Linked DNA regions of Homo sapiens: regions 2, 3 and 4 are each reported to be linked to region 1. Evidence: microRNA targets listed by miRTarBase, many of them from high-throughput screens and not tested one by one. Region 1 holds a microRNA gene; each other region holds the end of a gene's coding sequence.
The links. The annotated mature microRNA hsa-miR-762 reads GGGGCUGGGGCCGGGGCCGAGC and lies in region 1 at 4,177-4,198, shown strand. An mRNA with a match to its seed (bases 2 to 7 or 8) in the 3' UTR can be bound and repressed. Matches are read on the target gene's strand: a 7mer-m8 pairs with bases 2 to 8, a 7mer-A1 pairs with bases 2 to 7 and ends in A, and an 8mer does both.

Region 2: miRTarBase lists SLC12A7 as a target of hsa-miR-762. Seed matches in the 3' UTR shown: 8mer at 4,950-4,957 and 7mer-A1 at 4,854-4,860.
Region 3: the mRNA of COL1A1 is a reported target of hsa-miR-762. Seed matches in the 3' UTR shown: 7mer-m8 at 5,290-5,296, 8mer at 4,838-4,845, 7mer-m8 at 4,834-4,840 and 7mer-A1 at 4,735-4,741.
Region 4: the mRNA of CDC37 is a reported target of hsa-miR-762. Seed matches in the 3' UTR shown: 7mer-m8 at 6,213-6,219.

What each region holds. Positions count from the first base shown.
Region 1 is chr16:30,889,775-30,896,774 of GRCh38, forward strand. MIR762 (microRNA 762) reads left to right here and starts at 4,129; the gene lies at 4,129-4,211. BCL7C (BAF chromatin remodeling complex subunit BCL7C) reads right to left here and starts at 4,303. Exons shown (of 6, transcript NM_004765.4): 1 at 4,079-4,303; 2 at 3,438-3,516; 3 at 3,066-3,174; 4 at 2,812-2,973. The coding sequence starts at 4,170. CTF1 (cardiotrophin 1) reads left to right here and starts at 6,840. Exons shown (of 3, transcript NM_001330.5): 1 at 6,840-6,894. The coding sequence starts at 6,870. MIR762HG (MIR762 host gene) reads left to right here. Exons shown (of 3, transcript NR_110942.1): 3 at 4,774-5,446. RefSeq lists enhancers at 3,260-3,892, 3,431-3,760, 5,504-6,009, 6,010-6,513 and a silencer at 4,141-4,620.
Region 2 is chr5:1,046,571-1,053,570 of GRCh38, forward strand. It overlaps SLC12A7 (solute carrier family 12 member 7), which reads right to left. Exons shown (of 24, transcript NM_006598.3): 23 at 6,779-6,912; 24 at 3,814-5,881. The coding sequence ends at 5,790. Among named protein-coding and RNA genes, the nearest start is that of MIR4635, 13 kb to the right of the region's middle.
Region 3 is chr17:50,179,566-50,186,565 of GRCh38, forward strand. It overlaps COL1A1 (collagen type I alpha 1 chain), which reads right to left. Exons shown (of 51, transcript NM_000088.4): 49 at 6,752-6,942; 50 at 6,213-6,455; 51 at 4,536-6,083. The coding sequence ends at 5,937. Among named protein-coding and RNA genes, the nearest start is that of SGCA, 17 kb to the left of the region's middle. RefSeq lists enhancers at 1,603-1,897, 2,357-3,252, 4,828-5,818.
Region 4 is chr19:10,385,202-10,392,201 of GRCh38, forward strand. CDC37 (cell division cycle 37, HSP90 cochaperone) reads right to left here. Exons shown (of 8, transcript NM_007065.4): 8 at 5,932-6,505. The coding sequence ends at 6,350. Among named protein-coding and RNA genes, the nearest start is that of TYK2, 8.1 kb to the left of the region's middle. RefSeq lists enhancers at 862-1,251, 1,332-1,391, 3,554-4,054, 3,634-3,693.

The DNA.
Region 1 (7,000 bases):
AGAATAACAACACTAATTAGCTGAGCATGGTGATGCATGCCTGTAGTCCCAGCTACTCAGGAGGCTGACTGAGCCCAGGAATCCAAGGCTGCAGTGAGCCGTGATCACGCCTCTGCATTCCAGCCTGGGCGACAGAGTGAGACCTTGTCTCAAAAAAAAAAAAAAAAAAGCAAAGCTTAAAAAATGAAGGAAAAAGTTGTTCTGGCAGCTGTGTGGAGGTGACTAGAAGAGACCAGCTGGAACCAAAAACGGGTGAGAAATGGGAAGGCCAGGGACAGGGAGCCTAGGAGGAAGAGGTGCCAATCAGACGGGTTTGACTGCATGGAAGAAAGCAGAGCTGGCTGGGCACGGTGGCTCAAGCCTGTAATCCCAGCACTTTGGGAGGCCGAGGCAGGTGGATCACGAGGTCAGGAGTTCAAGACCATCCTGACCAACATGATGAAACCCCGTCTCTACTAAAAATACAAAAATTAGCCGGGTGTGGTGTTGTGCAGCCTGTAATCCCAGCTACTCAGGAGGCTGAGGCAGGAGAATTGCTTGAACTTGGGAGGCGGAGGTTGCAGTGAGCAAGATCGTGCCACTGCACTCCAGCCTAGGTGACAGAGTGAGACTCCATCTCAAAGGAAAAAAAAAAAGCAGAGCTGATGAGGACACAGGCCCAAGATGCTGGCTCACTGGCTGAGTTACTTCTCTGGGTCTCAGTTTCCTCATCTATAAATAGGGATCATAACAAGATCATCACCCTTATAAGGTTGTAGTAAAAATTAAATGAGAAAAAAACACGTAAAGTGTTGGCTGGGCACGGTGGCTCACACCTGTAATCCTAGCACTTTGGGAGGCCGAGGCGGGCGGATCACCTGAGGTCAGGGGTACGAGACTAGCCAGGCCAACATGGTGAAACTCCATCTTTACTAAAAATACAAAAATTAGGCCAGGCACGGTGGCTCACGCCTGTAATCCCAGCACTTTGGGAGGCTGAGGCAGGCGGATCACCTGAAGTCGGGAGTTCGAGACCAGCCTGGCCAACATGGAGAAACCTCGTCTCTACTAAAAATACAAAATTAGCGGGGCATGGTGGTGCATGCCTATAATCCCAGCTACTCGAGAGGCTGAGGCGGGAGAATCGCTTGAACCCGGGAGGCAGAGGTTGCGGTGAGCTGAGATTGTGCCATTGCACTCTAGTCTGGGCAACAAGAATGAAACTCTGTCTCAAAAACAAACAAACAAATAAACAAAAAAAACAAAAATCAGCCGGGCATGGTGGCATGCCTGTAATCCCAGCTACATGGGAGGCTGAGGCAGAAGAATCGCTTGAACCTGGGAGGCAGAGTTTGCAGTGAGCCAAGATCGTACCACTGCTCTCCAGCCTGGGCAACAGAGCAAGACTTCATCTCAAAAAAAAAAAAAAAAAAGGCTGGGCGTGGTGGCTCGTAATCCCAGCACTTTGGGAGGCCAAGGCGGGCAGATCACCTGAGGTCAGGCGTTTGAGACCAGCCTGGCCAACATGGCGAAACCCCAACTCTACTAAAAATACAAAACCAGCCGAGCATGGTGGTTCATGCCTATATTCCCAGCTACCCAGGAGGCTGAGGCAGGAGAATTGCCTGAACCCAGGAGGTGAAGGTTGCAGTGAGCCAAGATTGTGCCGTCGCACTCCAGCCTTGGCAAGAGCGAAACTCTCTCAAAGAAAAGAAAAAGAGAAAAGAAAAAAACCCAACCACGTAAAGTGTTTACCAGGGCACCTAGCACACAGTAAGAGCTCAATAAATACTAGCTGTTGTTATTCCTATTATTGTTAATCACCCCTATGACTATCACTATTATTTATTCACTCAACAGATATTTACTGAGCACCTACTATGTGTCCCATATTATTCTGAGGATACAGTAGTGAACAAGATCACATAGGGCCAGGCACAGTGACTCACGCCTATAATCCCAGCACCTTGGGAGGCTGAGACAGGAGGATCATTTCAGGCCACGAGTTCAAAACCAACCTTGGCAACATAGCGAGACCCTACCTCTACAAAAAATTTAAGAATTGGCTGGGCATGGTGGCACACACCTGAGTCCCAGCTATTTGGGAGGCTGGGGCCAGAGGATCCCTTGAGCCCAGGAGTTTGAGGCTGCAGTGAGCTATGATTGCACCAGAGTACTCCAGCGTGGGTGACAGAGACCTTGTCTCTAAAAAAAAGGGGGGGGAGGGCCGGGTGTGGGTGTGATGGCTCACACCCGTAATCCCAGCACTTTGGGAGGCTGAAGGTGGAGGACTGCTTGAGCAAGTGAGTTTGAGACCAGCCTGGGCAACATGGTGAAACCTTATCTCTACAAAAAATACAAAAATTAGCCAGGTGTGGTGGCATATGCCTGTGGTCCCAGCTACTTGGGAGGCTGAGGCGGGAGGATCGCTTGAGCCCAGGAAGTTCAAGGCTGCAGTGAGCTATGATCACACCACTATACTACTCCAGCCTGGGTGACAGAGCGAGACCCTTTCTCAAAAAAAAAAAAAAAAAAAAAAAAAAAAAAGGATCAATATGGGCCCAACATTCAGGAAACTGACATGAGAGTGAGGAGAAAGATAAACTAGTAAAAAATTAATTTACATGAAAATCTCAGACAGTGATATGTCTGTATAGATTCTAAGAGACCAGAGGAATGAGACTGTAGCTACAGGGAGATTCTGCAGGAGTCGGAAGGCGCCTTGAGGAGGGTGCACAAGACGGGGAGCAGGTATAGGGATGAGCTGGTAGGTTAGACTCTGGAGAAGACAGGACTTAGAGGAGAGAGCTCCTGGGAGGTACCTGGTCCTACCTCTCTCTTGGCCCAGCCGTGGGGGCTGAGCCTCCTCAGGGACCCCTTCTGGGGGTCCGGCAGGTGACACAGGGCGGCTGGGCTGGGGGGTGCCCCCAGGACTGGGCTCTGTGCCCTTTTGCAGGGAACCTTCCGAATGGAAACTCTGGTTGCTGTTCTCATCTGCGGGAGCAAGAGCCGAGATGGTTGGCCTGAGATCCCTAGTACACTCCTTCAGTCCCCACAGCCCCCCGCGTTTCAGGATCCCTACCTACCATTAAGATCCAGCAGGATGAGAGGGCCACCCCCTCGGGGACTGGCGCCCCTGCCCCGACGTTCCCGGCCACGGGATCTCTCTGCCCCGCCACCTGCCCGCCTTCGCTCCTGGGGGTTAGAGGATTAGGGTCAGAGCTCTTGGAAAGCCCCACCATACACCTAAGGAAACTGAGGCACTGAGAAGCAAAAGGGCTCAAACTCAGGGGGTGTGGAGCAGAAAAGAGGGCAAAAGGGGAGGAGCTGCTAATGATGGTTCCCGTCTGTCCTGCTGCATCTGAGGTCTCGGGGAGCTGGAGGTAGAGGTCAGCGTGGGGAGGAACTTGCCTGAGGTTGCACAGATGCAGGGCCTTGTGGGAATGGGGGTTGCTCACCTCCTCCTGGGGATCCACCACTGGCACCCACTTGAAGATACGAAGGGAAGTGTCGCCCACAGTCACCCATCGCTTCTCCCTGTGGGAGGGTGGGGGGCTGGGTCAGAGAGGCCTGAGGGGAGACCCACCCCCCTAGGAGCTGGACACATCTGGGGGTACCTGCAGAGGTTGAGGAGGCACAGGAGGATAGCAACAGTTTTGCTAATGGGGCATAGTTACATGGAGGAAGAGAGTCCTGCAAACCCCAGGGCATAGGCGGTGGGTGCCTCTAGAGAGAGGATATGATTTGGGGCCCTGGCTCTGCGGACCCCTGGGGCACACATGGGGGGCGTGGCTATGGGCCTGGCCCGGGATCAGAGCCCTGCAGATCCTGGGGCGCACCTGCAGGAGGGGTGTCAAAGCTTTAGGGGGCGGGGCACAAGAGGGGGCTCCCGCTCTGGGAGGACACGGCTGGGGATCACGCTTTGTAGACCCCCAGGAGTAGCCAGGCGAACGGGGACAGAGCCCTGTGGATCCAGGGCAAAGCTAGTGGGTGGAGATACACCGAACACCCGGGGCCCAGAGCTGGCGAGGGCAGCGTAGACGCCTTTGGTGCTGGTGGTCCCGCTGTGTCCCGTCCCTGGCCCCCGAGCAGCGCTCACCATCTCCGGACCTTCTCGATGGTCGCCATCACCTTCTTGATGTCATCCTTGGCCCGGCTCCGGGTCTCGGCCCGTACAGTCCGGCCGGCCATGCTGGCGGGGCTGGGGCCGGGGCCGAGCCCGCGGCGGGGCCGCCTCCCGTCCGGCGGGCTCAGGCTCCGCGCCAGGCCCGGGCGCCGCGCTCTCGGCCTGCCGTCCCCCCTGGAGTTGGCCGCGCCCTCTCTCGTCCCCAACGCCTCCGCAAGTCCCCGCCCCGTTTCCTGCCGCCGCGCCCCGCCCCGGCCTGTCCCCGGAGCGGCCCGGTGGCGCGGGCGGCCAGAGCCCAGGCCTGGAAGCCCGGCCGGCCCCGCCCCGACCCGGGCCCGCCCCCTTGGAGCGCCTGGACGCTCAGCGCCCCCTGCCCGCCGCCGAGAGCGGGAGTTGGGGACGGACGCGCGAGTTGGGGACGGAGAGCGGGAGTTGCGACCGGACGCGCGAGGCAGGGCCGAGGCCGTGTGTTCAGACCACGTGGGCGCGGGGTGCGCGACAGGGTCTGTGTCCTGCGCTGCGTGAGCCGCGGTGGGTGTCCGCGAAACGCTGTGTGTGGAGTGCGTGCGTGTGTCCGCCCTCGCCAGGCTGTTGGTCTACACCGCCCAACTTACTCAGTCATCCATTCATTCAACAGTCTTGTTAACTGAGTGCCAATTACGCTCCAGGCGCTGCGAATACGAGTGGGTCTCCACCACCAGAATGGCTAAAGTGAAAAAGACCGCACCGTGTGGAGGCGAGAAAGTAGAGCGACTGGACCTCTCTTGTATTTCTGGGGGAGTGTAAATTGGTAGAGACATTTTGGAAAACTGGCAGTTTTCTAATGAAGCCGAACATATGCCACCTCTGTGATCCAGCAGTTCCACTCCTAGGCTGTCAACACCCAGCAGAAATGTGTAGGTGTGAGCATCAAGAGGGTGCATGGGAATGTTCAGAGCCCTTTCATAACAGCCCCAAACTGGAAATAACCCATCAACAGAATGGAAAATGAATGATGCCCTACTCACTACCATGCACATAGACACAGCAACGGGATTGACATGCCCGGCTACACACAGCAACATAGACAAGTCGCATGATGAAATCTTGAGTGACAGAAGCCAAATGCAACAGTACATACTAGATGGTTCCAGGTGTATTACGTTCAGAACCAGACAAAACTAATTTATAGTGCACCAAAGTCAAGATAGTGATCGCCCTTAGGGTTGGGAGGGGACGAGGGGAGAGCTTCTGGGAGCTGATCCAGTTCTGTTGTGTAATCTGGTGCTGGTTCCCTGGGCATATGTATTCTGTGAAAATCCATCACATGACTTAAATAAAATGTACATTACTTAAATAAAATGAGTGTGTCTTTGTTGACTTTATTTGAGGCTGGCTTGTCAGCAGATAAGACCATGTCAAAATTTGTGCTGCTGTTGTGTGTGTGTGTGTGTTTCAAGGTGTGGCTGTTGTGTCTGTGAATTTGGGCGTGACCATGTCCAGAGGTTAAGGGTATAAGGGGTTAGGAGCATGGTTAAGACAGCATTTTTTTGAGCCAAGCTGCTTAGGTAAAATCCCAGTTGTGCCACACCTAACTGTGTTACCCTGGACAAGTCACTTCTCTCTATTCCGCATCTATAACACAGGAGTTAGTTAATGTGCATATGGCTCTTAGAACAGTGCCCAGCACATGGTAAATGCCCAATAAATATTTACAGTTAATACACATGTGATTGTGGGCCCTACCAATTGTCTGGCTCAATTCTATCTGCTGTGCCCTCTCCAGTTAAACTCTTTCTTCTTTTATTCCAGCAATTGCTCACGGCAATACACACACCCACTCACACGAACACACGCACACACATGCACGCGCACATGCACACACGCGCACACCTGCACACTCACACGCACACAAATCCACTCGCACACACGCATGCTCACACGCACACACGTCCGCATGCACGCACACACGCAGACACACGCAAGCGCACACACACACGGGCCTCCTCGTCTTCATTCACAAACCCCATTAGCTTCTGTTGTCTATGGGCTTCCTCGACAGACCGCGAGCCCCTCGCGGGGGCCAGAAACCAAGTATGGATCATCCCTATGTGCCTTCCTTTCCGTCTACACCAGGTTAATGGGGTTGACGTATGGGTGTGACTTCCTGTCCAGGTCTCTGTAGCTTGTTCTCCTGGGGGTGGGGGGCGGGGTGTGATTGTTACTAGGCCTGCTAAGAAGAGGAGAGCAGTGTATCTGTCTCCCTCCTGGTGGGTGTGACAATGAGATTGGAAGCCATCTAAGATAGGCCAGGAGATGTATGTCTGGACAAACATGCCCCAAGCCTGACGGCCCCCATCGTAGCCTCCCTCGCAAGCCGCGCCCCAGACTAGAGAGAGGGCCTGCGCATTCCTGTCCTGCCAGTCCGGCAGTTCCCTCTCCTGTCTCCTCAGCTTTACACCCAAAGCAGCCGCTGCCTCAGGTCCAAGCCTGAGCCCGCGGCAGAACATTGGGCTGCCTCCCAGGCCCTGACACCCCCAGCCCCGAGGTCCTGTCCACCCGGCAGACAACTTGCCTTCCCCCTCGGGCCCCTTCCCCCACTAGGCCCCACGGACGAGGAGCTGAGCTCAGGGCCAAGGAATCCTGTCTCAAAAGGGGGGGTAGGATGAAATGTTTGGGGTCTGGGCTCTGATTGGCTGCGCCCGGGCCACGCCCCCAGCCCTTTCCCCTTTCTCCCCCCTCGAAAGGGGGGCGTGAAGGGAGCCGGGATCAGCCAGGGGCCAGCATGAGCCGGAGGGAGGGAAGTCTGGGTAAGGGGCTGAGGGACCGGACGCCGGGTCGCTGAGGGGCGCAGGAGTCAGAGGGATTGGGAGCTGGGGGTCTGGGTTTCCGCCACCCCCGGGTCCGGGAGGGGAG
Region 2 (7,000 bases), not on the chromosome of region 1:
GAGTGGGTGAGTTACTTTGTGAACGAGTGGGCGAGTTAGTGTGTGAATGGGTTAGTGTGTGAATGAGTGGGTGTGTGAAGGAGTGGGTGAGTTACTATGTGAATGAATGGGTGAGTTAGCGTGTGAATGGGTGGGTTAGTTTGTGAATGAATGGGTGAGTTAGTGTGTGAGTTGGTTAGTGTGTGAATGAGTCGGTGGGTTAGTGTGTGAATGAGTTCGTGTGTGAATGGGTGAGTTAGTGTGAATGAATGGGCGAGTTAGTGTGTGAATGAGTGGGTTAGTGTGTGAATGAGCGGGTATGTGAACGAGTGGGTTAGTGTGTAAATGAGTGGGTGTGTGAATGAGTGGGTGTTTGTGTGAATGAATGGGAGAGTTAGTGTGTGAATGGGTGAGTTAGTGTGTGAATGAGCGGGTGTGTGAACAAGTGGGTTAGTGTGTAAATGAGTGGGTGTGTGAATGAGTGGGTTAGTGTGTGAATGAGTGGGTTAGTGTGTGAATGAGTGGGTTAGTGTGTGAATGAGTGGGTTAGTGTGCAAATGAATGGGTGAGTTTGTGAATGGGTTAGTGTATGAATGAGTCGGTTTAGTGTGTGAATGAGTGTGTGAATGAGTAGGTAAGTTAGTGCGTGAACGAGTGGGTGAGTTAGTGTGTGAATGAGTCGGTGAGTTAGTGTGTGAATGAATGGGTTAGTGTGTGAATGAGTGGGTGGGTTAGTGTGTGAATGGATGAGTTAGTGTGTGAATGAGTGGGTTAGTGTGTGAATGAGTCGGTGGGTTAGTGTGTGAATGAGTGGGTGGGTTAGTGTATGAATGTGTGAATGGGTGAGTGTGTGAATGGGCAAGTTAGTGTGTGAATGGGTTAGTGTGTGAATGGTCGAACGAGTGTGTGTGTGAATGGTTGTGTGAACGAGTGGGTTAGTGTGTGAATGGGTGAGTTCGTGTGTGAATGTGGGTGTGTGTCGGGTTAGTGTGTGAATGTGTGAATGAGTGGGTGGGTCAATGTGTGAATGAGTTAGTGTGAATAAGTGGGTTAGTGTGTGAACGAGTAGGCGAGTTAGTGTGTGAATGGGTTAGTGTGTGAATGGGTCAGTGTGTGAGTGGATGTGTGAACGAGTGGGTGAGTTTGTGAATAGGTGTGTGAATGAGTGGGTTAGTGTGTGAATGGAGTTTGTGGGTGTGTGAACGAGTGGGTTAGTGTGTGTTAGTGTGTGAATGGGTGAGTTGGTGTGTGAATGAGTGGGTTAGTGTGTGAATGAGTGGGTGGGTTATTGTGTGAATGAGTGAGTGGGTTAGTGTGTGAGGGAGTTAGTGTGTGAGTGGGTGTGTGAACGAGTGGGTTAGTATGTGAATGAGTGGGTTAGTGTGTGACTGGGTGAGTTGGTGTGTGAATGGGTTAGTGCATGAATGGGTGGGTTATTGTGTGGATGAGTGTGTGAATGGGTGTGTGAACGAGTGGGTTAGTGTGTGAATGGGTTAGTGTGAGTGTGTTAGTGTGTGAATGAGGGTGTGTGAATGAGGGGGTGTGTGAACGAATGGGCGAGTTTGTGAATGGGTGTGTGAATGAGTGGATGAGTTGTGTGAATGGGTGTGTGAACGAGTGGGTGAGTGTGTGAATGAGTGGGTTAGTGTGTGAATGAGGGATTTAGTGTGAGTGGGTGTGTGAACGAGTGGGTTTGTGAATGAGCGGGTGTGTGTGAATGAGTGGGTGAGTTGGTGTGTGAATGAGTGGGTTAGTGCGTGAATGAGTGGGTGGGTTAGTGTGTGAATGAGTGGGTGTGTGAACGAGTGGGCGAGTTTGTGAATGGGTGTGTGAACGAGTGGGTTAGTGTGTGAATGGGTTAGTGAATGGGCTAGTGTGTGTCAGTGGGTTAATGTGTGAATGAGTTGGTGAATGTGTGAACGAGTGGGCGTTAGTGTGTGAATGAGGGTGTGTGAACGAGTGGGTGGGTTAGTGAATGAGTGTGCGAATGAGTGGGTAAGTGTGTGAATGAGTGGGTGAGTTAGTGTATGAGTGGGCAAGTTAGTGTGTGAATGGGTGGGTGAGTTGAGTGGGTGTGTGAACAAGTGGGTTAGTGTGTGAATGAGTGGGTTAGTGTGTGAGTGGATTAGTGTGTGAATGAGTGGGTGGGTTTGTGAATGAGTGGGTTAGTGTGTGAACGAGTGGGCAAGTTAGTGTGTGAATGAGTGGGCGAGTTAGCGTGTGAATGGGCGAGTTAAGTGTGTGAATGAGTGGGTGACTGCTCTAGCCGAGTTCTTGCTCCTTGGGAAGCACCGGCCAAGGCTAGGAAGCAGCCTGGTTTTTGGGGTCCCAGGGAAGGGGACACCTAGGGGTTTCTGGCTGGGCCCTGGTCCCAGATGTGTAGGCATCAGTGGGTCTCCAAACCTCCCTGCTGGAATTTGTGAGCATCTGGCCCTCAGGACAGTAGGCCCACCCCAGCCGGCCGCTCCCGTGCTCTGAGTCCCGGGTGTGGATGCCTGGGTGCAGCCAGCACTCACCCCTCGGGGGTCCGAGGACGACGCTGCTCTCACGGTCACTCTCCTGTGACCCGAGAGCCAGAGCAGGACCCGCCACCCTCCTGTGCCGTGTCCCTTCCTGTCCACCATGTGTCAGGCCCACTGGACACGGTGCCCGGCAGCTTCACACACACAATTCGCCCTTCGTCGTGCACGAGGCAGTGTTCCAGCATGTTCAGTCACATAAGCTTCACCACAGCCATTTCGGAACATTTTCACCCAAAAAGAAATCCATACCCTGTAAGCAGCCTCCCCCCATCCCCCATCTCCCCCCATTCCCCTTGACCCACCCCCAGCACCCGCCAGTGCACCCCCTGCCTCTGTGCCTGGCCCACTCTGGCATTTCGTGTTAAGTGCAGTCCCACAGCGTGAGACCCTTTGTGTCTAGCTTCCTCCCGAGCGTGAGGCTTCCAAGCTTGGCTCCTGGTTCTAGCTGAGAGGCCTGCAGCAGGCACGGCCCACATGGACTCAGCATGTTCTCGGGCTGCATCCATTTTGGCTGCTGTGAACTTGCGTGCACCCGTTCCTGAGGCTGTGCCACACACCAGGAGTGGACCTGCCGGGGAAGGGGCGGCTCTGTCTCTCACACTTTCAGGAACCACAGGCCCTTCCCGTGCAGCTACAACCCTGCAAGAGGGGTCCGATTCCGCACGTCCTCCCCGCGATTCTCTGGTTTTGGCTGTGACCATCACAGGTGTGAGTTGGCATCTCACGAGTTAGAACACGCTGTCCCCACTCATGGCGGACTCTCTGGTGCCTCCATCCTTATATAAATTAAATTATAAATCGAATGGCCGGGCATGGTGGCTCATACCTGTAATCCCAGCACTTTAGGAGGCTGAGGCAGGCAGATCACTTGAGGTCAGTTCGAGACCAGCCTGGCCAACATGGTGAAACCCCATCTCTACTAAAATACAAAAATTAGCTGGGCGTGGTGGTACACGCCTGTGATCCCAGCTATTCGGGAGGCTGAGGCAGGAAAATAGCTTGAACCTGGGAGGCGGAGGTTGCAGTGAGCTGAGGTGACGCCACTGCATTCCAGCCTAGGCAACAGAGACTGTCTCAGAAATACAGAGATTGGGTCACTTCAACACACAGCACTAGGAAGTTTGGGGTAAGGTCATTTCCAAGCCGATGACATGATTTGGAAGCCCTCGTCCAATTCATATGGTCACTCTTCAGCCACCTGAGTTGGCTGTGGCTGGTCAGCCCTGACGCTCCTGCTAGAAAAGGGGCGGCCAGTACATTTTCTCCAGCTGTCTTTCATGCTGAATGAGACTCAAGAGATTCTTCAACGTACTCAGATTTCATAGGATTTTATTTTTCTACTAACACAGACAGACAGGGAAACCTACAAAAGGAAACGGAGTCAATTGTAAATGGCTGTAGTTACTGGTTACACGGAGTTGACAACACAAAGGATGCCTGGTGCTTGCGTGCAGAGGCTGCAGCCCAGGGCGGGGGCAGAGCTGAGCCCTCAGGAGGTGGTTTCGTGTGCAGAACTGAGCGGCCCTCAGAAGCAGGGCTGTTTTCCAGCCACCAACCAACGTTCAGAGCCAGCACCATGTGGCCGCTGTGCCTCTAGCCTGCTCTCCTCCAGGTGCAGGGGACACAGGACCTGCCGGCCCCATCCAGACATGGAGGAGCGTTTTGCTGCTTAACTCATGCTTAGCCAAGGCAGGCAGAGGCTGTGGGAACTGCTGAGCCCCGCTGTGATGTCTGGGACACGCTCTGGGCAGCAGCCGTCACTCTACAGCAATGCCAGCCCTAGTCTGGCTCCTCAGAAACATCTGGGGGCACAAGTGCAGCCTCTGCCCCGATTTGAACTTTGTTGATGGGGCTGATTCCCTTGGGAGACCATGCAAGCCAGACGTAGCCCAAGGCCTGGCCATCTGGGGCCTCTAGTATATAGAAGCAACCTCTTTATGGACAACCTTGTTACCACGTAACTCCCTGGGGTGTTTAAATAAATAAATATGCCACATAGAAAGGGAGGCCCAAGTCGGTGCCACTGCCCGCAGCCTGCAAATGTGACCACAACCTACAAAGCAGAAACTCACAGCCAGCCGAAGTGCAAAGTGTTGGGCCCTTGAAAGCTATCTCTTCAGTGCCACCGCCGCCTCCATGCAAGGCACAGGCCATGGCAGGGGACGCCCGGGACTCAGCCAGACAGACCTGACACCAGGCGCCACTGCTGCCTGAGGACCTCCCACGTCGGGTCCGTGTCCTCCTTCCCTGGAGCACCGGGGTGGGGATGGCACGTGTGAGCCAGCTCAGAGGCTGAACTGTGTGCCGTGCTCCTGGGGTGGGGTGGGGTGGGGAGGGCAGTCCTGGCTGTCGTGGGCTGTCGGGGGAACTCACTGTTCACTCTGCGCGCGTGTGCCCCTGGGTTTCAGTGCATTTGCCTGCGTGAGGCACTGATCGCACCTGTGGCTGTGGGCTGGGCCCTGTCAGTGCTTATGAAAAGAAGTGGCTGGTTTTCTAAAGGTGGATGGAGACTCGGACAGCTGCAAACACAGCCCGGCATGGCAGAGCCACAGCTGGGGGCCCCTTCCCGGAGCGTAGGCCCTGATGAACTGAACGTGTTCACCACACACCCGACAGATGATCCACCACGTTCTGGAAAAGCCGAGTTCCCTTTCCAGATGGCCCTGGCCCACGCCTCAGCTCATGAAATGTGGACCTGCCGAGCCCAGAGGCTCCCACACGAGGGTGACACGGGCATGGACAGAGTCCTCCAGCTTCAGTGCCTTGAGGTACAGAAACACAAAGACAGTCAAGGAACAGAGTGACTCGGAGGTGACCGGGGCCCTGAGCGGAGCCATGGCCAGGGCTGACGTTTCACCTTCATCATCAGGGACAGCTTCAGCTCCGGGTGCTCTTCCAAGAATGTTCTGGATGGGGTAGAAATGCAACCTAACCACTGGGTAAATCCAGCCAAGGAAAAGAACTTCCAGAAACCAAGGCAAGGGCTCACTGGCTTCTTGTGACCTGCGAGAAGATCTGGCCACGTCCAGGTCACTCCGGTAGCAGCGTCTGCCCTCAGATGCAAGGAAATCGTCCAGCCACGCCCTGATTTGCTGAGCCTGTTAAGGCTGAACAGGAGAGCCCTAGGTGACGGGCCTAGAAACTTCCGTAGGAAGCCCCATGGGCAGCTTGGGCGGCATCACTGGGGGACAGGTGTGTCTGCCGTCTGTTTCCCTGGGCCAAGCCCAGGCCCAGGCTGCCCACGCCGTCCTCCGTGCCTGTCCCAGAGTGCCGTGATGCTGTTGGGCATTAGGAGTAGATGGTGATCACCTCCCGGCCGCCACCCCTGACCAGGAGGACTCTGTTCAGCCCCTCGGTCAGGACTTCAAGAAACTCCATGTCTGTGGTCAACAGAGTTAAGGCCACAGCTGATCTTACCTGAGCGTGTGTAGCTGAAATCGTGATAGGAGTGAGGTTTATCCTCTCCTGGTTAGCTAAGATTTGGTTTGAGAAACCCAGAGCCAAGGTGAAAAGAGAGGTGGGGATTAGAGAGACCCCCCAGGCGGGGAGGAGCAGGGCAGGGGAGAGAGGGGCCAGTGCTCGGGAAAGAGAGGGAGCACCGTGGCCACAGGGAGGACGAGCAGAGACAGCGACACAGCCCACGGTGCTGACCCCACCCGACAGGGAACCCCAGCCACGGGACTGGGTCCTCACCAGCCTACAGGGGACCTGGGCCACGGATTCCGATCAGGACGCATGGAGGACATGCCCTCACTGGCCCCAGTTCTTGGTGCCAACCTGGCAGGGATGTGCCAGGCGTCACCCTGTCTGTGCCAATACGCCCAGATGCACTGCGGAGTTCTCCTTCCAAAGCACAAATTCCCAAAGCTGCGACCAATTGTGGCCTTAAAGCCGAGAGCTGGGCTCCTCACCTCCCACCGTTGTCGGCGCAGGGTGGGGCTGAGCCCCAGCGGAGGTCCCAGAATGCACAGCTGCTGTGGGGATGCATGACAGGGAGCCTCCCAGCCCCAGGGCAGCCCTGAGCACCTGGGGACAGTGGGGCTGGTACTGTAGGCGGGCCCTCCCTCCCCCACACCAATGCCAGGGCTGGCCCCAACTCTGGCCCGGTCACCACTGGGCTCAGAGCCCCACTGCATCCCGGTCGTAGCTCCCAGAGCCTGGGGCTGAAGGAGAGGCGGGAAGCCAGCCTCACTCCCAGCACCCACAAACCCAGGTCTTAGCGAGAAGCCACCAGGGGGTGCCCGCACGCTCAGCAGGCACACTGCAAGAAAGGATACAGTTCTCGTCTCCCTGCCGGTTTTTGGGAGGACCTGGCATGTTGAGCAGGACCAGCTGCGCATCCTGGGACTTGTTGAGGACGACGCCATTGAGCTTCACAGCCGTGTGCATCCGCCTGACGTTGGACTGGTCCCTGCAGGGGAGGTGGGCACGGTCAGCGGGCGGCGGGTGCACCCCACGCTCCGGACACGAGGCTGAGCTGAGCCCTGATGAGCTGCATT
Region 3 (7,000 bases), not on the chromosome of region 1:
TTTTTTTTTTGTATTTTTAGTAGAGACAGGATTTCACCATGTTGGCCAGACTGGTCACAAACTCCTGACCTCAGGCAATACGCCCGCCTCGGCCTCCCAAAGTGCTGGGATTAGAGGCGTGAGCCACCGCCCCCAGCCCTTTTTATCTTTTTTTAAATGGCTGCTAGATCATAAAAAATTACATCCGCACCTTGGGTTGTATCTTTATTGGGCTGTGCTGGTTTCATGGCTCTTCCTGTATCTCCATCCCAGATTAACTCACACCCAGAACTCAGCCCCTTTCCCTGCTTTCTACAGAACACCTGCTCTCCTAGGCCTCCGTGAACTCAGCAGCGAAGCCCTGGCCTGCGGGCAGAGTTTGCCCCACAGCAGTGAATTCATCCAGAACTTGCACGTGTATGTGGCCTCCCTCTCTAAAATGTTTTAGTCCCCATCATGGTTCTCTGTCCCTTCTCATTCAGTACCCCCTTCCCAGTTCCTCCCACTGTCTTTTGCAGAGAAAATCCCACTTTCTCCAGCATTAGCATGTGCCAAACTCACCTCCCTCCTGGCCTTGCCTTGCACATCCTCTGCAAAGGGTTGAAATCTCTGCATGGGGAGGGCCTGCCACCCTCCTGGACAAGACCCCTCCTGCTTCCAGGATCTTGCCTCCCTGACTGTGGACATGCCCTCGGCCTGACTTGATACCCTCTGGAGCGCACACAGGGGAAGGGGACAGGGAGACTCAGCCTTCCCAGCACCAGGGCTCCCACTGGCTGGGGGACTTCAGGAGAGTGGTCTCCTCCCACACCGAGCCCCCACTAATTTTTCCCACACTCCTCTCTGCTCCCCCGCCCCATTCATCCATATCACACAGACAGACCCTCCTATGCCCTCTGTCATGCCCATGTACACATATGTCCCAAATGCCACAGTCCATGTGTTCTCACAGTTCACACAGGGTTGCTTTCACTGCCATACGTGTGGGGAAGCTGCCCTCATCATGCACAGATGCCCGCCCACCCCAACCCACACACATACATGTGTATAGGCCCCTGTGAACACAGATACATTTATTTGTGCACAGGTAGGTGGGCACAGACAGTGAGACACATTCTCATCACCAGGCACCCCCAGGAGACAGAGACCCCTTGGTGGCACTCACCTTGCTCCCTCAGACGCCATCGCAGGCCTCCTCGTGTGGACGCTGGGCTTGACGGCAGCCTCGCATTCTTTCCCACGCGGCCCACGCTCACGCCTGCTCCACACACAGTCTCCTCACCCCAGCCGGCAAGCTTTCTTGCAACCCCTCTCCTCCTCCACCCACCCAGCTCTGTCATTGGAGAAAGTCTGGGAAGCTGAGAGTTAAGGTGCTGGGGAAAAAAAAAAAAAAGGAGGGAAAATCTACTGTATTCCGGTGATAGAAAATCCTGCCAGGAGATGGGGCTTAGGTCCCAAAAGGGACCCAGGATTCTGAGATTGCAGCAGAAATTAAAAATCCAAATGAAGCCTCCTCCCTTTCTAGAATTTTCCATCTGGGCTTGACTGAAAAATCAGCCAAAAATCAGGAGCCTGGTCCTTCTCACAGAGAAGACAAAGGTGAGTCTGACAGAGCGGCAGGCTCTGTGACACCCTGCAGGAGATAGTGAGGGTCTCGGGGAGCGGGTCTGGGTGGCTGTATTTAGGGCGGCTGTGATGTCAGCGGAAAGGAGGGTTTGAGTTGGGAATGTGGCACAATGGCCCCTTTGTCCCCCTCCCCTCCTGTCCTGTACACACTGAAACCACACACCGGCCCCACACCACGTGATGCAGGCTCAGAGCTGCCCATGGGGCACTGCCACACAAGGCTGCCCCCGCTGCAGCCCTGACCCACAGTGCGTGTGTCCACATACATGCCCACGCGTGTGCACACACACCCACGTACCCACATGTAGATTTGTACAGAGGTGACAAGAGGCATATTCACTCCTTTGCCTACAGCTCTGCTGCCCCGTATGGTAACCCTTATCCCACATATAGTTAGTAAAACTAATTGCAATTCAGTAAAAGTGGAAACTGCATTCCTCAGTCACACTAACTGCATCTCACATGCTCAACAGCTGCATGTGGTTAGCGGCTACCGCACTGGGCGGTGCAGCTCTAGGACATGTCTGTTGCTGCAGAAAGCCCTGCCCTGCGCCCTCCGTTGCTGTCTGCTCCCCCATGGGCCTTCCACTTGCTCTTCCTCTCACACTCGCTCACTCCTGTGCACCAAGCACACACAGCGCCATGCTCTCACCTAATGGGTGGCCTCTCTAGCTCAGTCTCTCTCTCTTTAGTCTCCCCAGTACCTAAGCACAGACTCTGCCTAGCCCTGCATTGCAACACCTGGCCTCTAGTCTGGAGAGAATAACAGGATGGAAACATGACCACATCCACAATCCTAGGATGAAGGACCGAGGGGAGCTATGTGGATCTGGAGAGCTTTGGAAACTCAGAGGGGCTGAGCTCAGGCTGGGTTGGGCAAGGGAATGGGAAGAGAATGAGACATTTGAGCATGGCCCGGACAGTAGGGTGTTGAGCATGCAGAGAGAAAGGACATCTAGAAGGCCTGGAAGTGGGGAAATGCAGTGCATTTGTGAGAACTGTTGGCCACCCTTTTTGGTTGGTGTGACAGATGTGGGCAGGGGAGGGGACAGTGAGCCTGGGCAGGTGGGTAGTGGCCAGGTAGAGCCTTGGATGCCAGGCTCAGGATGTCCCTGGGTCCCCCACGAGGGCAGATGGGGATGTGGCCTGGACAGCCAGGGTCCTAAAGTCCCAGAGGTCCAAGTGGACAGGGTTTCCTGGGCAGCATGGCAGGCATCACCAAGCAATCAACACATTGATCAAGAGATGGAGCCTGGTGCTGTGGCTCATGTCCGCAATCCCAGCACTTTGAGAGGCTGAGGCAGGTGGATCACTTGAGGCCAGGAGTTCGAGACCAGGCTGGCTAACATGGTAAAACCCTGACTCTACTAAAAATATAAAAATTAGCTGGGCGTGGTAGTGCATGGCTGTCATCCCAGTTACTTGGGAGGCTGAGGCATGAGAATTGCTTGAACCTGGGAGGCGGAGGTTGCAGTGAGCTGAGACTGCGCCACCGCACTCCAGCCTGGGTGACAGAGTGAGACTCTGTCTCAAAAAAAAGAGAGAAAGAGAGATGGATAGGCATCACACAACTTTGGGTAATTTGCATATGAATAAGCCTTCATTTATATGCCATCATTCTTATCCTCTCTACACTGATTCCCTTTCTACACTGTCCTAAGTGTGGTAGAAGTGCTAATGATGAATTATTGAAGGCCATAATGAACGGCCATGAATACTTAATGACATCACGATATTAGTATTGCTGATGGATGGTATCTACAGACTTGTCCATCTCTCTGGAGACCTTAGGGAGGAGTGCGGGCTTTTTGTTCTTTTTGGGTTTAGACCTGAGATGAGGTGAGAGAGGTGACCAGCTGTCGTCTCGCTGTCTCCCTGGCTCCGGGTGCCTGGTTCTCTCTGGACTTCTGACGCCCTGGATTCTCTGTCCCCCGCTGACCACACTCGCTGTCCCCCTTACCTGAGATGGGGGAGCCGAACAGTCACCTTCCCTCCGGGCCTCGCCTTCTCAGGGCCTCTGGGAAGGAGCAGGCAGAAGGTGAAGGGAAAGAGAAGGGACGGAGAAGAGGGGGGAAGAGGAAGCAAGAATTTAAGAAAAAAAAGAAAGAAAGAAAGAAAAAGCTTAAAAAGGAGTAGGCGGGAGGCGGGGGCACGATGGTTCCCCAGACCACCCCAGCCCAGGGGGGTTGTGTTCTGGGGATTCAGGAGGTCGAGGCACCCAGTCCGTGGTGAGCAGGGCCAGGTCTCCTTCCTTCCCAAGAGCACGGTGCGAGTGCCTTCCCCACAGCTCTCCCAGGTGTCTGTCTCCCTCACTCCCCCAGGGCCAGGACAGCGAGCAGGGAGCACGCCTTCCTCCTGGTCCCTCCCAGACCCTCGCCAGGCTCAGCAGACCCCTCTCCTGTTGCGTTGCTCCTTCGGCAGGAGGTCAGCGTGGGTGAGAAGGGAGCAGAGGCCAGATGACCCTTCATGTCAGTTCAAGGAGAGGCCCCCAGGTCCTCCTCACGGGTTCCACTCCCCTCACCCTCCCAGTATCCATGAGCATCCCACCGCCACCAAGTGCAGGGCATCCAGGGGGTGGAGAGTGGATGGGCTTGAAGGGGAGTGGGTATGAGGTTTGGACAACCCCAGATGTGAAGAGTGTGTGTGTGTGTTGTGCACGTGGATTGCCTGTATGGTATTGCAGGGGAGAAGAGGATTTGGAAAAGGTGCAAGGAAATTGCAAGAATAGAAAATGAAAGAGGAAGTAGAAAGGTTTGCGGTATAAGAAGGGTGAGAGAAAGGGGAGTGGGGTTATGGAGGGATCTAGAAGAGAATAGTGGGGAGGGAAAGGGCAGGAATGGAAGGCAAGCCCATCACCCCAAAGCCCCTTCCCCATGTCTACCCCTCCCCCAACTCCAAAGAAGGAAATTAGGAGGCCACTGCGGATTATGTTTGGGTCATTTCCACATGCTTTATTCCAGCAATCAAAATAATTAAAAACATCTCAAATTATTATACACATACAAAATAGGTACAGAGTCTTTTGCTTCCTCCCACCCCTAGGGGGAAAAACTGCTTTGTGCTTTGGGAAGTTGTCTCTGAAACCCGGGGACAGAGGACGCAGGACAGACTAGGAGGGAGCCGGGAGGATGGGCTGCAGCTGTGGAGGAGGGTTTCAGAGGAGAGAGGTCGGAGAGCAGAGGCCTGAGAAGCCAGAGGCAGGTGGAGAGAGGGTGGAAAGTGAGCAGCGGGCTGGGCTGGAGCCGCACACGCTCTCCTCCCATGTTAAATAGCACCTTTAGAAAAATTCACAAGTCCCCATCCACAAAAAAAAAAAAAAAAAAAGAAAAATATCAAGGAATAAAAATAGACTTTGAACAAAAAGGAACATTTGCTGGCCTGGGGGGGCATCTCAATTTCTATAGCACCAGTGATTCCCTCCCCACCCCACCCATCACATAGATGTAGCACCTTTGGTATAAAATGGGGAGCCGCTTCCACCCTGCCCCCATCCCCGCCCCCAGGCAGTTGCCCCGGTGACACATCAAGACAAGAACGAGGTAGTCTTTCAGCAACACAGTTACACAAGGAACAGAACAGTCTCTCCCGCCCAGCCCTGCGGCACAAGGGATTGACACGCGTTCCCCAAATCCGATGTTTCTGCTTTGTCGTGGCCCTTCCTGACTCTCCTCCGAACCCAGTGAGGGGCTGGTGGCTCCCCCGGCATGACCCCCTCAAAAACGAAGGGGAGATGTTGCAAGAGCCATGGGAGCGCCAGATGGCAAGGCTTCTTTGGCAGTCTGAGAACCCCAGGTCCCCCAGGGCCTGGGGGTGCTGGGCGGGCAGGAGCGGGCTGAGGGTGGGGGCCACTTGGGTGTTTGAGCATTGCCTTTGATTGCTGGGCAGACAATACATTGTTTCCTGTGTCTTCTGGGGAGACAGATTTGGGAAGGAGTGGAGGGGAGGCCCCAAGGGGGGTGTGGAGAAAGGAGCAGAAAGGGCAGCATTGGGGTTTCATAAGCCCAACGGGCAGAAAGGGACTTACCCCCGCATGGGTCTTCAAGCAAGTGGACCAAGCTTCCTTTTTTAAAAAGTTATTTATTTATTCTTTTTTTTTTTTTTTTTTTGGTAAGGTTGAATGCACTTTTGGTTTTTGGTCATGTTCGGTTGGTCAAAGATAAAAACTAAGTTTGAGAGATGAATGCAAAGGAAAAAAATATTTTCCAAAGTCCATGTGAAATTGTCTCCCATTTTTTGGCTTTTGAGGGGGTTCAGTTTGGGTTGCTTGTCTGTTTCCGGGTTGGGGGGAAAGTTGGTTGGGTGGGAGGGAGCCAGGTTGGGATGGAGGGAGTTTACAGGAAGCAGACAGGGCCAACGTCGAAGCCGAATTCCTGGTCTGGGGCACCAACGTCCAAGGGGGCCACATCGATGATGGGCAGGCGGGAGGTCTTGGTGGTTTTGTATTCAATCACTGTCTTGCCCCAGGCTCCGGTGTGACTCTGGGGTGGGGCGGAGACAACGGGAGGGGGCATTACCACGTGGGAGTGATGGAGAGAGGGCACTATGGCCTGGCCAAAAAGCCCAAGGCCGGAGAGGTGGGGCCCTGCCTGGGGATTCTGGGCACTCACCGTGCAGCCATCGACAGTGACGCTGTAGGTGAAGCGGCTGTTGCCCTCGGCGCGGATCTCGATCTCGTTGGAGCCCTGGAGGAGCAGGGCCTTCTTGAGGTTGCCAGTCTGCTGGTCCATGTAGGCCACGCTGTTCTTGCAGTGGTAGGTGATGTTCTGGGAGGCCTCGGTGGACATCAGGCGCAGGAAGGTCAGCTGGATGGCCACATCGGCAGGGTCGGAGCCCTGGCCGCCATACTCGAACTGCAGGGGAGGGGAGAGAGGGAAGAGTGAGCCGCTATGCGGGAACCTCTAGTCCTGCCTGGCCTCCCTGTCCAGGGTCCTCAGAGAGCTGCCCAATGCACCGTTATATCGAGAGGAGGCACCACCTGCCCATCGGCAGCCTGTGTCTGAACCACTATCAGGGACCTGAGACCCCTGCCTCCCAGCCCAGCTCTGTCCATCACCCTTAGCAGAGACCTACTCCAGGACTTCATGTCCCTTCTGAGCACTGGGCTAGCCCATCTCCTAACACTGGCTCTGAGGTCCAGCTCACGCACCTGGAATCCATCGGTCATGCTCTCGCCGAACCAGACATGCCTCTTGTCCTTGGGGTTCTTGCTGATGTACCAGTTCTTCTGGGCCACACTGGGCTGAGTGGGGTACACGCAGGTCTCACCAGTCTCCATGTTGCAGAAGACTTTGATGGCATCCAGGTTGCAGCCTTGGTTGGGGTCAATCCAGTACTCTCCTGTGGTAGGGCAGGGCAAGATGGAGTCAGGGAAAGGGAGCAGCCAGCACCATATGGT
Region 4 (7,000 bases), not on the chromosome of region 1:
GCCCGGCCTAGAGAGTGCCAGATTTTTCAACAGCCATTGGGGCAATGCTCCGTGATTAGATGCTAGAACACAGTGGGCCGAGTGGGCCTGGGACCCGGTATTCCCCGCTCCCAAAGGAACTAGAAGGAAATGCCACATGAGGCGATTAATAATAACAATGCTAGTCATACTCCCAGTAACGATATCAATTCTAACAATGAGCTGGTGCGGTGGCTGGCACCTGTAATCCCAGCACTTTGAGAGACAGAGGCAGGAGGATCGCTTGAACCCAGGAGTCCCAGACCAGCCTGGGCAACATAGTGAAACCTCGTGTCTACAAAAAAAATTTAAAAATTAGCTGGGCATGGTGATACACGCCTGTAGTCCCAGCTACTAGGGAGGCTGGGGTGGGAGGATCGCTTGAGTCCACAGGTTGAGGTTGCAGTGAGCTGTGATCGCACCACTGCACTCCAGCCTGGGCAACCGAGCAAGACCCTATCAAATAAATAAATAAATAAATAAATAAATAAATAAATAAATAAAGCTGACATTTTCCCAGCCTGCACACTGGGGCCGAGCGTGGGTATTTAGCCATCTCTGGGTCTTCTCAGTTTCTTTCTTTTTTTTTTTTTTTTGAGATGGAGTCTCACTCTGTTGCCCAGGCTGGAGTGCAGCGGCGTGATCTCGGCTCATTGCAAGCTCCACCTCCCAGGTTCATGCCATTCTCCTGCTTCAGCCTCCCGAGTAGCTGGGACTACAGGTGCCCGCCACCACACCCGGCTAATTTTTTGTATTTTTAGTAGAGACGGGGTTTCACCAGGGTTAGCCAGGATGGTCTCGATCTCCTGACCTCGTGATCCGCCCGCCTCGGCCTCCCACAGTGCTGGGATTCCAGGCACCAGCCACTGCACCTGGCCTCTTCTCAGTTTCTTTGCAAGTGGTATCAGCACCCCCACTTGACAATTGAAGAAAAGAGGCTAAGGAGGCTGTTTTGCCAAGGCCTGGCGCCTCCTGCCCAAACTCAGACCTGGTCCATAAGGGAGGCCCCAGACCCCACATGTGACTAACAGGAGGGGGTTTCCCAGGACTGAGGGGGTTCCCCAATGGGGGGCTTTCCATGCTAAAATTGGGACAGTCCTGGGCAGGCCAGGACAGTTGGCCACGCCACTACGGCGGGTTTCTCAGAAGGAACAAAAGCTGGGGGCTTCCCCTGGCTCTGCAAGGGCTGCAGGGAGGGGCCTCCTCAGAGCCCCCTGGGACCTGGGAAAAGCCAAGAGTTGATGGATTAAAAGTAAAATACCTTTGTGTTTTCATGAGTGAGAAAGTTCAGGGAACAGCCAGTCTCCTCCTCAAAACAACCATGAGATGGATTTCCTGGGAAATCTTTTTTTTTTGAGACAGAGTTTTTCCTCTTGTCGCCCAGGCTGGAGTACAATGGCACGATCTTGGCTCACTGCAACCTCTGCCTCCTGGGTTCAAGGGATTCTCCTGCCTCAGCCTCCCGAGTAGCTGGGATTAGAGGCGCCTGCCACCACGCCCAGCTAATTTTTGTATTTTTTGTAGACACGGGGTTTCACCATCTTGGCCAGGCTGGTCTCGAACTCCTGACCTCAGGTGATCCACCCGCCTTGGCCTCCCAAAGTGCTGGGATTACAGGCATGAGGCTACCGCACTCAGCCTCCTGGGAATCTTTCCACAAAAATTCTACGCTCCTTTGGGCACGTGTGTGAACCTGTGTTCTCTAGAAAATTCTCAGGAGCAGCCCCAAATGGGACACTCGGTGCTGGCCTGAGAGGATACAGAGGAGTAACTTACACACATGAAGGCTGGCACCAGACGGGCTGAGTTCAAGCCCCAGCTCCATCACTGTGTGATCCTGGGCGGCCCCTTAACCCCACTGTGCCTCAGTTTCCTCCTCTGCAAGATGTGACTATTTAGTCCCAAACCCAGAGGCATGTCAGGGACATCAAATGAGTTAATACACTTCATTAGCCAGGTGTGGTGGTGCATGCCTGTACAGGAGGCTGAGGCAGGAGAATCGCTTGAACCTGGGAGATGGAGGTTGCAGTGAGCCGAGATCGTGCCACTGCATTTAAGCTTGGGCAACAGAGCAAGACTCGGTCTCAAAAAAAAAATAAATAAAAGGACTGGTGGTGGATAGCCAGATGCAGTGTGTGTCTCTTGGCTGTAATTTGAGCTACTCAGGAGGTTGAGGCAGGAGAATCACTTGAGCCCAGAGGTTAGAGGCTGCAGTGAGCTATGATTGTGCCACTGCACTCCAGCCTGGGTGACAGAGCCAGATCCCATCTCTTAAAAAAAAAAAAGGGGGGGGCCACACATGGTGGCTCATGTGTGTAATCCCAGCACTTCGGAAGGCCAAGGCGGGCAGTCCTCTTGAGGTCAGGAGTTTGAGACCAACCTGGCCAACATAGTGAAACCCTGTGTCTACAAAAAATACAAAAATTAGGCCGGGTGCGGTAGCTCACGCCTGTAATCCCAGTACTTTGGGAGGCTGAGGCAGGTGGATCATGAGGTCAGGAAATCAAACCCATCCTGGCTAACACAGCGAAACCCCGTCTCTACTAAAAATACATAAAAATTAGCCGGGCGTGGTGCCAGACGCCTGTAGTCCCAGCTACTCAGGAGGCTGAGGCAGGAGAATGGCGTGAGCTCGGGAGGCAGAGCTTGCAGTGAGCTGAGATCAGGCCACTGCACTCCAGCCTGGGCGACAGAGCAAGACTCCATCTCACAAAAAAAAAAAAAAAAAAAAAAAAAAAGGGCCGGGCACAGTGGCTCACACCTGTAATCCCAGCACTTTGGGAGGCCGAGGAGGGCAGATCACGAGATCAGGAGATCGAGACCACGGTGAAACCCCGTGTCTACTAAAAATACAAAAAATTAGCCGGGTGTGGTGGCGGGCGCCTGTAGTCCCAGCTACTCGGGAGGCTGAGGCAGGAGAATGGCGTGAACCCCGGAGGTGGAGCTTGCAGTGAGCCGAGATCATGCCACTGCACTCCAGCCTGGGCGACAGAGTGAGACTCTGTCTCAAAAAAAAAAAAAAAAAAAAGCCAGGTGTGGTGGAGTGCGCCTGTAATCCCAGCTACTTGGGAGGCTGAGGAGGGAGAATCCCTTGAAACTGGGAGGCAGAGGTTGCAGTGAGCCCGAGATCATGCGACTGCACTCCAGCCTGGGCGACAGAGTGAGACTCAGTCTCACAAAATACAAACAAAATCTTCAATAACAAGGAATGCAGTATTTTGAAAAACTGAAATTAACACCAAAATGTGTATGATGAACAAAAATTATTATTATTATTATTATTTTTGAGACGGAGTCTCACTCTGTTGTCCAGGCTGGAGTGCAGTGGCGCGATCTTGGCTCACTGCAACCTCTGCCTCCCGGGTTCAAGCGATTCTCCTGCCTCAGCTTCCCGAGTAGCTGGGATTACAGGCACGTGCCACCACGCCTGGCTAAGTTTTGTATTTTTTGTACAGACGGGGTTCCACCATGTTGGTCAGGCTGGTCGCGGACTCCTGACCTTGTGACCCGCCCTCCTCGGCCTCCCAAAGTGCTGGGATTACAGGCGTAAGCCACCGCGCCCCGCTCAAAAATTAAAATTTTTACTCGGCAGGGCACACTGGCCTGTAGTCCCAACACTTTGGGAAGCTGAGGCGAGCAGACTGCTTCAGCTCTGTTCAAATCCAGCCTGAACAACATGGAGAGAACCCTGTCTCTGAAAAATAAATAAATAAAAAGATCTTGGAAGGTGTCTGAGGCTCAATCAGGGTTCCAGGAGTCCCCCTGCAGCTCCTACCTGTCGTTCTCACTCATACAAAACACTAAGGAAAGTTACTAGATTTGCAGCTCACTCCTGCCCCCTGGTGGTGATCGGCTTGGGCACAACAGCATTCCAGGGGTTTTTATCCAATGCTTTTGCAAATGTTTCCTGAAGGTCCCCTTTCTGGCACTGTGTATGTTGCAAGAAAAAGTCCGTGCTCTGGTGGCACCCACAGTACATGGGAGGTGACAATACACAGGTCTGTGTGAAGAAAGGCATGTGAGGCAGGTTTGGTGGCTGAGCATGAGGGGAATTAAAGTAGGTCAAGGAGGGCCTCAGAGAAGTGGCATTGATCTGTGGTCTGAGTGACAAGCAGTCCCCTCAGAGATGATGTCCCCCAGGAGAGGTAGGCATAAGTCTACTGGATCGGAGGTATTTCATGTCTTAAACTGATGTGAACCTGGGTATTTATTGTACTTTGATCTTAGCTCACTGCAGCCTTGACCTCCCGGGCTCAAGCAATCCTCCTGCCTTAGCCTCCCAAGTATCTGTAACTACAGGTGCGCCCCACTGCGCCCAGCACTGTTTTTTTTTTTTGTTGTTGTTGTTGTTTTTGAGATAAGTCTTTGTCACCCAGGTTGGAGCGCAGTGGCGTGATCCTGGCTCACTGCAACCTCCACCTCTCAGGTTCAAGCAGTTCTCCTGCCTCAGCTTCCTGAGTAGCTGGGACTACAGGCACGTGCCACCATACCTGGCTAATTTTTGTGTTTTTAGTGCAGACTGGGTTTCACCATGTTAGCCAGGCTGGTCTTGAACTCCTGGGCTCAAGTGATCCTCCTGCCTCAGTCTCCCAAAGTGTTGGGATTACAGGTGTGAGCCACGCCTGGCCGTGCACTCTTCTTTAAGACTTTTCCTGTGGCAGAAATATTTTGTGACTTTTGAAGACGGCCAGCAAGTGCCAAGGTCCCCGTTCAGAGAATCTGAGTGCCAGGTGCCAGTTGTCTGAACCATTACCTCACTTGTCCCCCTCACTACGGCCTGAGGAGGGCACTAGCGCGACGACGTTAGCCCTAAGAGCAGGGACACTGAGGCTCAGCGCATCACCCAAAGCCACACGAAGAGAAATTTCAAGTGCTCAAGGGCCAGCATGGAGTTGGGGACAACAGGGCAGCGAGGCAACAGGCAGATGGTGCTGGGGGCCTGGTCAGTTGCAGGGAGGACTTCGGCTTCTGCTCCCAGGGAGGGGAGTCCTGCGAGGCTTTTGAGCAGAGGTGGGACATGCCCTGACCTGGGTGTTCACAGGTACCCTCTGGCTGCTGCCTGTTCAGGGGCTGACTTGTAGTGGGGAATGAGGAGGAGGCTGGGGCAGGAATTAGAGCCAGAGGCGATGGGGACCTGAAGGCCATAGGGACAAAAGGCAGTGGTCAGAATCAAGAATGTTTGGGGGGGTGGGGCCAAGTGCAGCGGCTCACACCTGTAATCCCAGCACTTTGGGAGGCCAAAGTGGGAGGATCACCTGAGGTCAGGAGTTCAAGACTAGTGTGGCCAATATGGTGAAACCCCATGTCTACTAAAAACACAAAAAATTAGCCGAGTGTGGTGGCGGGTGCCTATAATCCCAGCAGGAGGCTGAGGCAGGAGAATCACTTGAACCTGGGAGGTGGAGGTTGTAGTGATCCGAGATTCCACCACCGCACTCCAGCCTGGGTGATAGCTGGACTCTCAAAAAAAAAAAAAAAAAAAAATCTGTTTGGGGGCAGCGCTGGCCATAGGGTGGGGAGATATAGTCCATCCAGGATGCTGCTCCAAAAGGTTGTAGGAAGCTGGAAAGGTGTGGGGTGCGGGCAGGTGCGCCAGATCCACAAAACCCTAGGGAATGTGACTTGGTTTGCAGATCACTACTGCCCTCTGGTGGTGATCAGCTTGGGCCACCCTGCATTCTGGAGGTCCAAGTAGGGACAAGGGAGTGGGTGGGTGAGACTGAAGGTTGGGGGCTTTTGAGGCCTCTGGAAGAAGACTGTTCCAAGTTGTGGAACAGCATGTGTGAGGCGAGGACCCACGATGGCTGGTGGGCAAAGGACCAGAGAAGCACAGCTCAGCCCCCAATATCCCACCAAGTTTCCCTCCCACCTACAAGAGATGGGCTGCCTGAACGGCCCTCCCAGCAGCCCAGAGAGCATCTGAAATCTTTTATTGGAAGATCATTGCTGTTTGCCAAATAGAAGACACAGACAGCAGACGAACAGTGAAAACAGAGCCCAGTGACGAGAGCCGGCCCCTTGGCTGGGGACCCTCCCCAACTACCTGGTAGACCAGCCTGGTGACCTCTGCCCTTCCCCGGACCCCCGGGCCTTTGGCATAATGCTGATGGGGGGCTGCAGGCAGTGAAGCCCCTTGACTCAAAGCAGAGACTTGAATGGGCGCTGGAGAGTGGAGACAGTGGAGAGGCCAGGGAGGGCTGGGCGGGCCCCCCAGGCTGGGCCGAGCAGCGCAAGTAGAGGAAGTCAGGAGCGGGCGAGATGGCATCTATCTGTTTTCTGAAAAGGGGCACATAGGGGCCTGGAAGCAGGTGGCGGTGGTAGCTGGGGCAGGTCACACACTGACATCCTTCTCATCGCCCGTCTTGGGAACAGCTTCCAGTAATGGGTCCCCAGGACCTGCCTCCTCTCCCTCCTTGGCCTCGCTGGCCTTAGAGTTGGGGACCCAGAGGCCAGAGTCAATGCAGCGCTGCATGTGGTACTTTGCGTCCTGTGAGGAGAAGGCAGGCAGATGAGGTGGGGCCGCCAGCCGGTGGTCCCCGTTGTCCCCGTTGTCCCTTGCACATCCCCAAGCTGGCTTCCTGCCTATTGATATTTTACCTATTTGAGACGGAGTCTCACTCTGTCACCCAGGCTGGAGTGCAGTGGTGCAATCTCGGTTCACTGCAACCTCCACCTCCCAGGTTCAAGTGATTCTCCTGCCTCAGCCTCCCAAGTAGCTGGGGTTACCGACGCCTGTCACCATGCCTGGCTAATTTTACTTTTAGTAGAGATGGGGTTTTGCCATGTTGGCCAGGCTGGTCTTGAACTCCTGCCCTTAGGTGATCTGCCTGCCTTGGCCTCCCAAAGCACTGAGATTACAGGCGTGAGCCACCGTACCCAGCTGGAAATTTAAATTTTATTTAACTTTAATTTAAATTTAGATAGTGCAATCTAGAACAAAAGCCAGCAAATTTTTTTTTGGTAAAGGGACAGACTAAATATT